Linked DNA regions of Homo sapiens. The protein of the gene in region 2 purifies or fractionates together with the protein of the main gene of each other region. This does not show direct contact. Each region holds a gene or a part of one and is shown on either strand. Other genes may lie near its edges. The genes, in order: IQCB1 and RUBCN.

What was found.
Region 1: the proteins of RUBCN (region 2) and IQCB1 purify together in Homo sapiens (affinity purification with mass spectrometry; one large-scale study listed by BioGRID and IntAct). This does not show direct contact.

Annotation. Positions count from the first base shown.
Region 1 is NC_000003.12:121,824,752-121,828,573, forward strand, and holds part of IQCB1 (IQ calmodulin-binding motif-containing protein 1), read right to left. Parts: coding exon 3,719-3,822; intron 1,430-3,718; coding exon 1,300-1,429; intron 1-1,299. UniProt on the Homo sapiens protein: Involved in ciliogenesis. The function in an early step in cilia formation depends on its association with CEP290/NPHP6.
Region 2 is NC_000003.12:197,726,885-197,730,706, forward strand, and holds part of RUBCN (run domain Beclin-1-interacting and cysteine-rich domain-containing protein), read right to left. Parts: intron 1-3,822.

The DNA.
Region 1 (3,822 bases), about 76 Mb from region 2:
TTAGACAAATCCGCAACCATAGTTGGAAATTTTAATACCCTTGCTCACTAAAAAGTAGAACTGTAGACAAGAAAAAAAAAAGAGAATTTAGAAGACTTCAACAACTCTACTAACCAAATTGACCTAATTAACACTTATAGAACATTACATACAACTGCAGAGTTCACATTTGGGTATACAAGTAGTCCTAGCTTTTGCATGGCACCATATTAAATAAAACCTGTGCATATCAAAACCTTTGCATGGTTCTGACATGCACGAGTTTCAGTTAAGATGGAACTGTGCAAAACAAAGGTTTCTTTTTCTTTTCTTTTTTTTTTTTTTTTCAGATGGAGTTTTGCTCTTGTTGCCCAGGCTGGAGAGCAATGGCACTATCTTGGCTCACTGCAACCTCTGCCTCCTGGGTTCAAGTGATCCTCCTGCCTCAGCCTCCCAAGTAGCTGGGATTATAGGCATGTGCCACCATGCCCGGCTAATTTTGCATTTTTAGTAGAGACAGGGTTTCTCCATGTTGGTCAGGCTGGTCTCAAACTCCCAACCTCAGGTGATCCGCCCGCCTCGGCCTCCCAAACTGCTGGGATTACAGGTGTGAGCCACTGCGCCCAGCCCACAAAAGTTTCTTTTAATGAACATTCACAAAGATAAAACATATGCGGAGGGCCATAAAACAAGTCTGAAAAAATTCCAAAGGATTGAAATGATATAGAGAATGTTATCTGACCAAAACATAATTAAATTAGAAATTGATAACAATAAAGTATCTAGTAGATCTTCAAATATTTGGAAATTAAGCAACACACTTCTAAATCCCTGGGTCAAAAAAAGAGCACATGTATAGCATCTAGCATAATGCAACCAAGAAATACTTGAAAAGACCCCTATGTTTGGGTTGAATATTTTGACTGGAGAAGATATGAGAGATCAAATAGGAAGTTCACCTTTATTCTTCACTACTGGAGCTACTTAGAAAAGCCCTAGCCCTAGAGAACATACTTTCCTCTACTGTTAATTTAAGTAAAAAGTATGTTTAGAAAGATGTTATGGAAATAATTGTCTATGGGTGCTGCCCAACAAGTAAAGTAGCAAGGCAGATCCTTCAAAAAATCAAATGGCAAGCTTCAGTCAGCATTAAAAATTTTTCAAACATAGAGATGATTTTTGGAAGGTTGTAACTTTGAAAATGTTTAAATTCACTACTTTAATTGTACTTTCAGCCAAATATTGCACATTTAAAAAATAACAGAACAGCTTCTTAAGAATTAAACTGATTTAGCTACAAAAGACTAAATAAACACATACCTTAGCTGCATTGATAAAACATGTTTGTAATTGTCTCCCCAAAACTAGAAAATTTTCTGCAGCTGATGGAAGTAATTCATTGTAAAATTCCTCTGCATCTTCTCCTGGCTCCAAGCCCACACAGCAATGGCTGAAATAAGAGCACAAGTTCGTGTTAATTAGAAGTTTATGTTGAATGCTCAAGCTTCTAGAGACACTGTGCCTTATTGAGAATTTTTAGTATGCTTCTTTTGTTACCAAGACAATAAAGAATTTTTGTTGAAAAATTAGTCTAACAACTTTCTAGAAAAGTAAACAGTGGTATGGACCATGCTTGTACTTAGGTCTGGGATTTATGTATCCTAAAAACCTACATATCAGCTCATTCAGCAAATAAAAGACACTTGGCTCACAATAAAGAGAAGCTAAGTTTTCAGTGAATTGGCTATAATCATTCTCAAAGCTATAGGATACCTTGAGAGTTTAATTTATGAAAAGCATTTGTGTTAACTAATACATTTTAGACACCTAATAGCTGAAAAATGCCCAAGTAGGATTTGTTTGCAAGGGATACATAAGGAAACCAAACACTAATTTCATACCAATTTTACCTTCCAATAGATCTACTTTTTGCAAAATACTCATTTGCATATTCCTTATATCAGAAGGACAAACGGCAAAACCTAACTCTAGTAGGAACACTTTACAATATACATTAGAGGAGAGAAAGTCACTTAGAGAAAAAGGTCCTCTTAAAATTGTACATAAAAGTCATTTCCTGTACATAAGTCAGAAGTCCCAATAATAAAAGGTTTTTCTGTAAACTAACATTCAAAAGAGCCTCAAACCCAAGAATGGTCTCTATGTGTGTACTCTAATGAACAAAAACTGCTGTTTGAGTCTTTTCAACAAAATGTATGGACACTAATAAGCAATAACAACTATGTATTGAGCATGTTAAAAATCTAAGTAATCAATGGCAGACTGGATAAAGAAAATGGTATATTTCTTTGGGGTGGTACATATACACCATGGAATACTATGCAGCCATAAAAAAGAACAAGATCATGTCCTTTGCAGCAACATGGATGGAGCTGAAGGCCATTAACCTAAGTGAACTAACACAAGAACAGAAAGCCAAACACTGCATATTCTCACTTATAAGTGAGAACAAACATTGAGTATGCAATTTACCTATAAAACAAACCTCCACATGTACCCCTGAACCTAAAATAAAAGTTAAAAAAAAACCTAAGTGGATAATATTTACATGTATCACTTTTTGTTGTTGTTGTTGTTTATTTGCACCTGGGTTCCTAAAGTTAATGGGCTAATGCTCACATGTATCAGCTTTTCTTTTCTCTTTGGTTCCTAAAGTTAATTACTTAAGAGTATCTTTTTTGATTGAGAAGATTAACAAATGAAATTATGTTTATTTGTGCATTCAGAAACATGGGAATTTCTTAAGTCTTGAATTCCACCCGAGAGCCTGGCTTAATCAATATCATCATAAACTAGCATATCGAATCAAAACAAAAACATAAGGCTTTATTTACTTAAGAAAATCAATCTTGAAAATTAAAGTATGAAAAAGAATATCACATATATTTTTCAACTGTTCTTTGTAACTGTGTGCTTTAAATTTGGCCTTTACCAAGTAACACAGTAGGATTAAGCAGCTTAGAAATCTAGCATCCAAGACAAACCCTTTCAGTGGGAATAGCTTATTAAATTCAAATGGCTTATTTAGGAAAAACAAAAAAAGAAGGCTAGGATCCAGTTAGTAAATACACACTTTCACTTATTAATCAGGAAGTAGCTTAGGCACTAAGAACATCTGGTTTATTTTACTACCTCCTTTAAAAAATGTTTATTTCTCTTCTATTAATTTCTAGCATGGCAGTAGATCAGTAAATTCTACTTCTAAATTTTATTGACAGTATTTGGGTTGCTTAATGAAATACACAGTTGATAGCTACATTGATATAGTGAAATAAAATGTTTCTTTATCAGTTCTCCTATAGTACTTGCTTGCATACTTTCATTTTAGCACTGATTTCATTCTGCTTTGTATCATATACTTACATGACTGTCACCCAATCTCTATTTTAAGTTTCTCAGGTACAGAGCCAGTGCCTTAATTTCTTCACTTCTTTAAAAATTCCTTAATCAATAAAAAGTATATTAGGCACTTGGAATTCAGTGGTGAGAAAAAAAATGATCACCATCTTCATTAAGCTTGTGGAGGAAAATTTTAGACAGTCAAATAATCTGAAGTAAAATTATGAATAATAACATATAATATGAAGGAAAAGTACAACCAAAACCTACAACAGGAGGTTGCCAATGCTTGTTAGGCAGATAAATAAAAAGCAAATGTTGAAAATCAGAATCAACTACTACATCCCTCAAGAACAGCTGACTTACTGCTTTATTTTACCTTAATATCTGTGTAAGCTGGGAAATTGTAGTCCAACCACCCTGGATTCGAGAATAATCTTGACTGAGGACCAAGAGGCAATATTGAATGAGATCATAACAATA
Region 2 (3,822 bases):
TTTAAACTGAATTTGAATTTGAATCTTAGCTGCTCACAAACTAGATGCACATTCTATTTTTTTTTTTTTTTTTGAGACTGAGTTTTGCTCTGTCGCCCAGGCTGGAGGGCAGTGGTGCGATCTCAGCTCACTGCAACCTCCGCCTCCCGGGTTCAAATGATTCTCCTGCCTCAGCCTCCCAAGTAGCTGAGATTACAGGTGCCTGACACCATGCCCAGCTAATTTTTGTATTTTTAGTAGAAATGGGGTTTCACCATGTTGGCCAGGCTGGTCTCGAACTCTTGACTTCAAGTGATCTGCCTGCCTCAGCCTCCCAAAGTGCTGGGATTACAGGCGTGAGCCACCTCACCTGGCCTAGATCCACATTCTTGACCAAGCCATTTAAACTCTTGAAGCTTCAATTCCCTCACTGTAAAATGGAGACAACAATTGCTTCACAGAGGAGGGTGTAACTGACAATCTAGGGGAAGCATTATCATAGAGCAGAGAATAATATTCTCTTTTCTCTGCCATTTTCCCCCTGTGAACTTCCATTGCATAAATCTAATAAATCCAACAAAATCAGGAAGGGTACCTAGAATAAAGCCTTCTTACCCATTCTGCTTAAAAAGAAAATTCTGCCAAAAATTGTAAAGGATTGGACAGTCTGCAGCATAATGAAGTTTGGTTACAGTGTTCCACATCCAAACAGTATCTCCACTGCGTTTAAACCAAGGTCAGGTCTGCAGGTAAGCATGGATTGCAAGGCCCTGTTGATGCTGTTGGTCCTCTCACTGAAGTAGGAAAGCTAGGAAGGACTTCCTCAAATACTGGATATGACTTTTATATGGTAAAGACTTAAATCTGCTTGACGGAATGGAAGAAACTGTCAAGGTGTTACTGCGGCACAATAAGGCTGATTTCATGAGACATATAAGAAAGACAATCTTATTACTTCACCAGGCTCATGTTATACTGTCTAGGTAGCAGAATGCTTTACAAACAAGGTAAAGCAGGCACACAACACCACTTTAATAGCAATGGCACGGGAGGAAAGACAAAGTGTTTCAGTCTTTTCAGTTTCAGGTAGATGATTTAAAGGTAAAAGGCACGCTGGGCACAGCGGTACATGCCTGTAGTCCCAGCTCCTCAGGAGGCTGAAGCAGGAGGACTGCCTGACCTATGCTGGGCACAGTGGCACATGCCTGTAGTCCCAGCTCCTCAGGAGGCTGAAGCAGGAGGACTGCCTGACCTATGCTGGGCACAGTGGCACATGCCTGTAGTCCCAGCTCCTCAGGAGGCTGAGGCAGGAGGATTGCCTGACTTCAAAAGTTCAAGTCTAGCCTGGGCAACAATGTGAGAACCCTTCAAAAAACAAAAACAGCTGTGGGGAGAGGAAAAGCTTCAGGCTTAGAGTCCTTGCAGTCCCCTCCTGGGTTCTGACAACAGCAGCTTCCCCAAAAGCTTCAAGGGTATGTTTCTGTAATTTTTGTACTAAAAATCGAACTAGCAATTGCTAGTTTCCTTTAAAATCATGTGATCATCCTGCTTTGCTACTAGCTCTATGTAAACTGTTAACTCCTAGAATAATCAAACAGGGACGGGAAAGAAAGAAAACAGGAAATATAAAAACGTGAAAAAGTGAAAATGAATAGGAGAAATGCGAAGAAAGTGGCACTTCCAATGACAACAGTTCCACTAGCATCTGCCCATCTGTAAGAGGGATGACCACAACGTTAATGTCTTCATTCCTCAAACAAATATTCACTGAACACCAACTATATGTCAGGCACTGGGCTAGGCACTGGTGCTTAAAGAAGCGTTATAGCGGTTAAAGAGGAAGAGTCCCATCTGTCAGAGAATTCAGAACGTAATGGGGGAAATGGACACTTACATAACCATGCTATGAAGGGAGATGTCAGATGTGCTCTAACAGAGAGGGGTGCCTTCTAAAGGAGCGTCATTTAAGGGACGACTAAGAGCTCTCCAGGCAAAGAGGGAGGTATTGCAGTGAGTGTAGAAAAGCAAGAATGAGAATGGCAAGAAAGATGTGAGAGTGGGTGAGTGTGCCATGGTTTTGTAATTGGAAACTTCATTAAGTACTAACAGAAAGATTCAGGCCGGGCGCGGTGGCTCACGCCTGTAATCCCAGCACTTTGGGAGGCCGAGGCGGGCGGATCACGAGGTCAGGAGAATGGCGTGAACCCGGGAGGCGGAGCTTGCAGTGAGCCGAGATTGTGCTACTGCTTTCTGGCCTGGGCAACAGAGCGAGACTCCGTCTCAAAAAAAAAAAAAAAAGATTCAATACCAGGGTGAGGAGTTTTGACATGGAAAATATTCTGTTTTCAATGGGAAAACCACTGAACATTGCTTTTGTTTTTTTTGTTTTGTTTTGTTTGTTGTTTTTGAGACGGAGTCTCGCTCTGTCGCCCAGCCTGGAGTGCAGCGGCGCGATCTCGGCTCACTACAAGTTCTGCCTCCCGGGCTCACGCCATTCTCCTGCCTCAGCCTCCCAAGTAGCTGGGACTACAGGCGCCCGCCACCACGCCCGGCTAATTTTTTTGTATTTTTAGTAGAGACGGGGTTTCACCATGTTGGCCAGGATGGTCTCGATCTCCTGACCTTGTGATCCGCCTGCCTCGGCCTCCCAAAGTGCTGGGATTACAGGCGTGAGCCACCGCGTCCGGCCCCTGCTTTTGTTTTGTTCTGTTTTTTGAGACAGTCTCGATCTGTTGCCCAGGGTGGAGTGCAGTGGCATCACCTGGGCTCACTGCAACCTCCGCCTACCAGGTTCAAGCAATTCTCCTGCCTAGCCTCCTGAGTAGCTGGGATTACAGGGGTGCACAACCACATCTGGCTAATTTTTTGTATTTTTAGTAGAGACAGCATTTTGCCATGTTGACCAGGCTGGTCTTGAGCTCCTGACCTCAGGTGACCCACCCACCTCAGCCTCCCAAAGTGCTGGGATGACAGGCATGAGCCACCAAATCCAGCCAATCACTGAACATCCCTGAGTAAAATATTATAGTAGCTTTGTTTCTGAAAAATTAAACTAGTAGCAGGGTGAGCTGGGATGACAGGCATGAGCCACCAAATCCAGCCAATCACTGAACATCCCTGAGTAAAATATTATAGTAGCTTTGTTTCTGAAAAATTAAACTAGTAGCAGGGTGAGGCTATCTGGAATTGGGACTAAATTCAGGTTGGAAGATTAGTTAAGAAGCTACTGAGGTAATCCCCAAGAAGAGATTATATGGGTCTACAGTGAATAAACTTTATATCTGCCCAGAATTTGTCCCTTTATTTTGGTAAGAGAACCCTGATTTTCCACTGAGGAACCACCTCTCTACTACTTACTCTGGTCCATGAGGTTCCAAGATCTCACCCTCCCTTAGGATCCAGGGTTGGGCACATAACTTAGGCCTGACTAAGCAGAATAGCCCATACCCCGACCACAAGAACAGAAACATAACTCAAGTCAGTCCAAAAAGAGTCAGCCCCGGGATTTTTGCTTTTGCTGGAGCTGCTGGGACTGCATCTTTCTTGTTGCTGGTATTGCTAAGCTTGGAGTTGCTATGGTAACCTGTAGAATAGTCTACCTGAGAATGAAAACAACACATCTGGAAGCAGAGCCCAGAGACAGAGACAAATTCTTAATTTGAACACCCATATTTGGGCATTTCTGAAGCAACAGTACACCCTAGATTTTTTTTTTTTTTTTTTGAGAGAGAAAGTGGGACCAGGGGGCCATCACGAGTGTGGATGCTGTGCCAAGGCCCGGAGCTCTGGGAGCCCACACCATTTATTGATGATCAAACAAAGAAACAGGTGGTGAGGATGTGG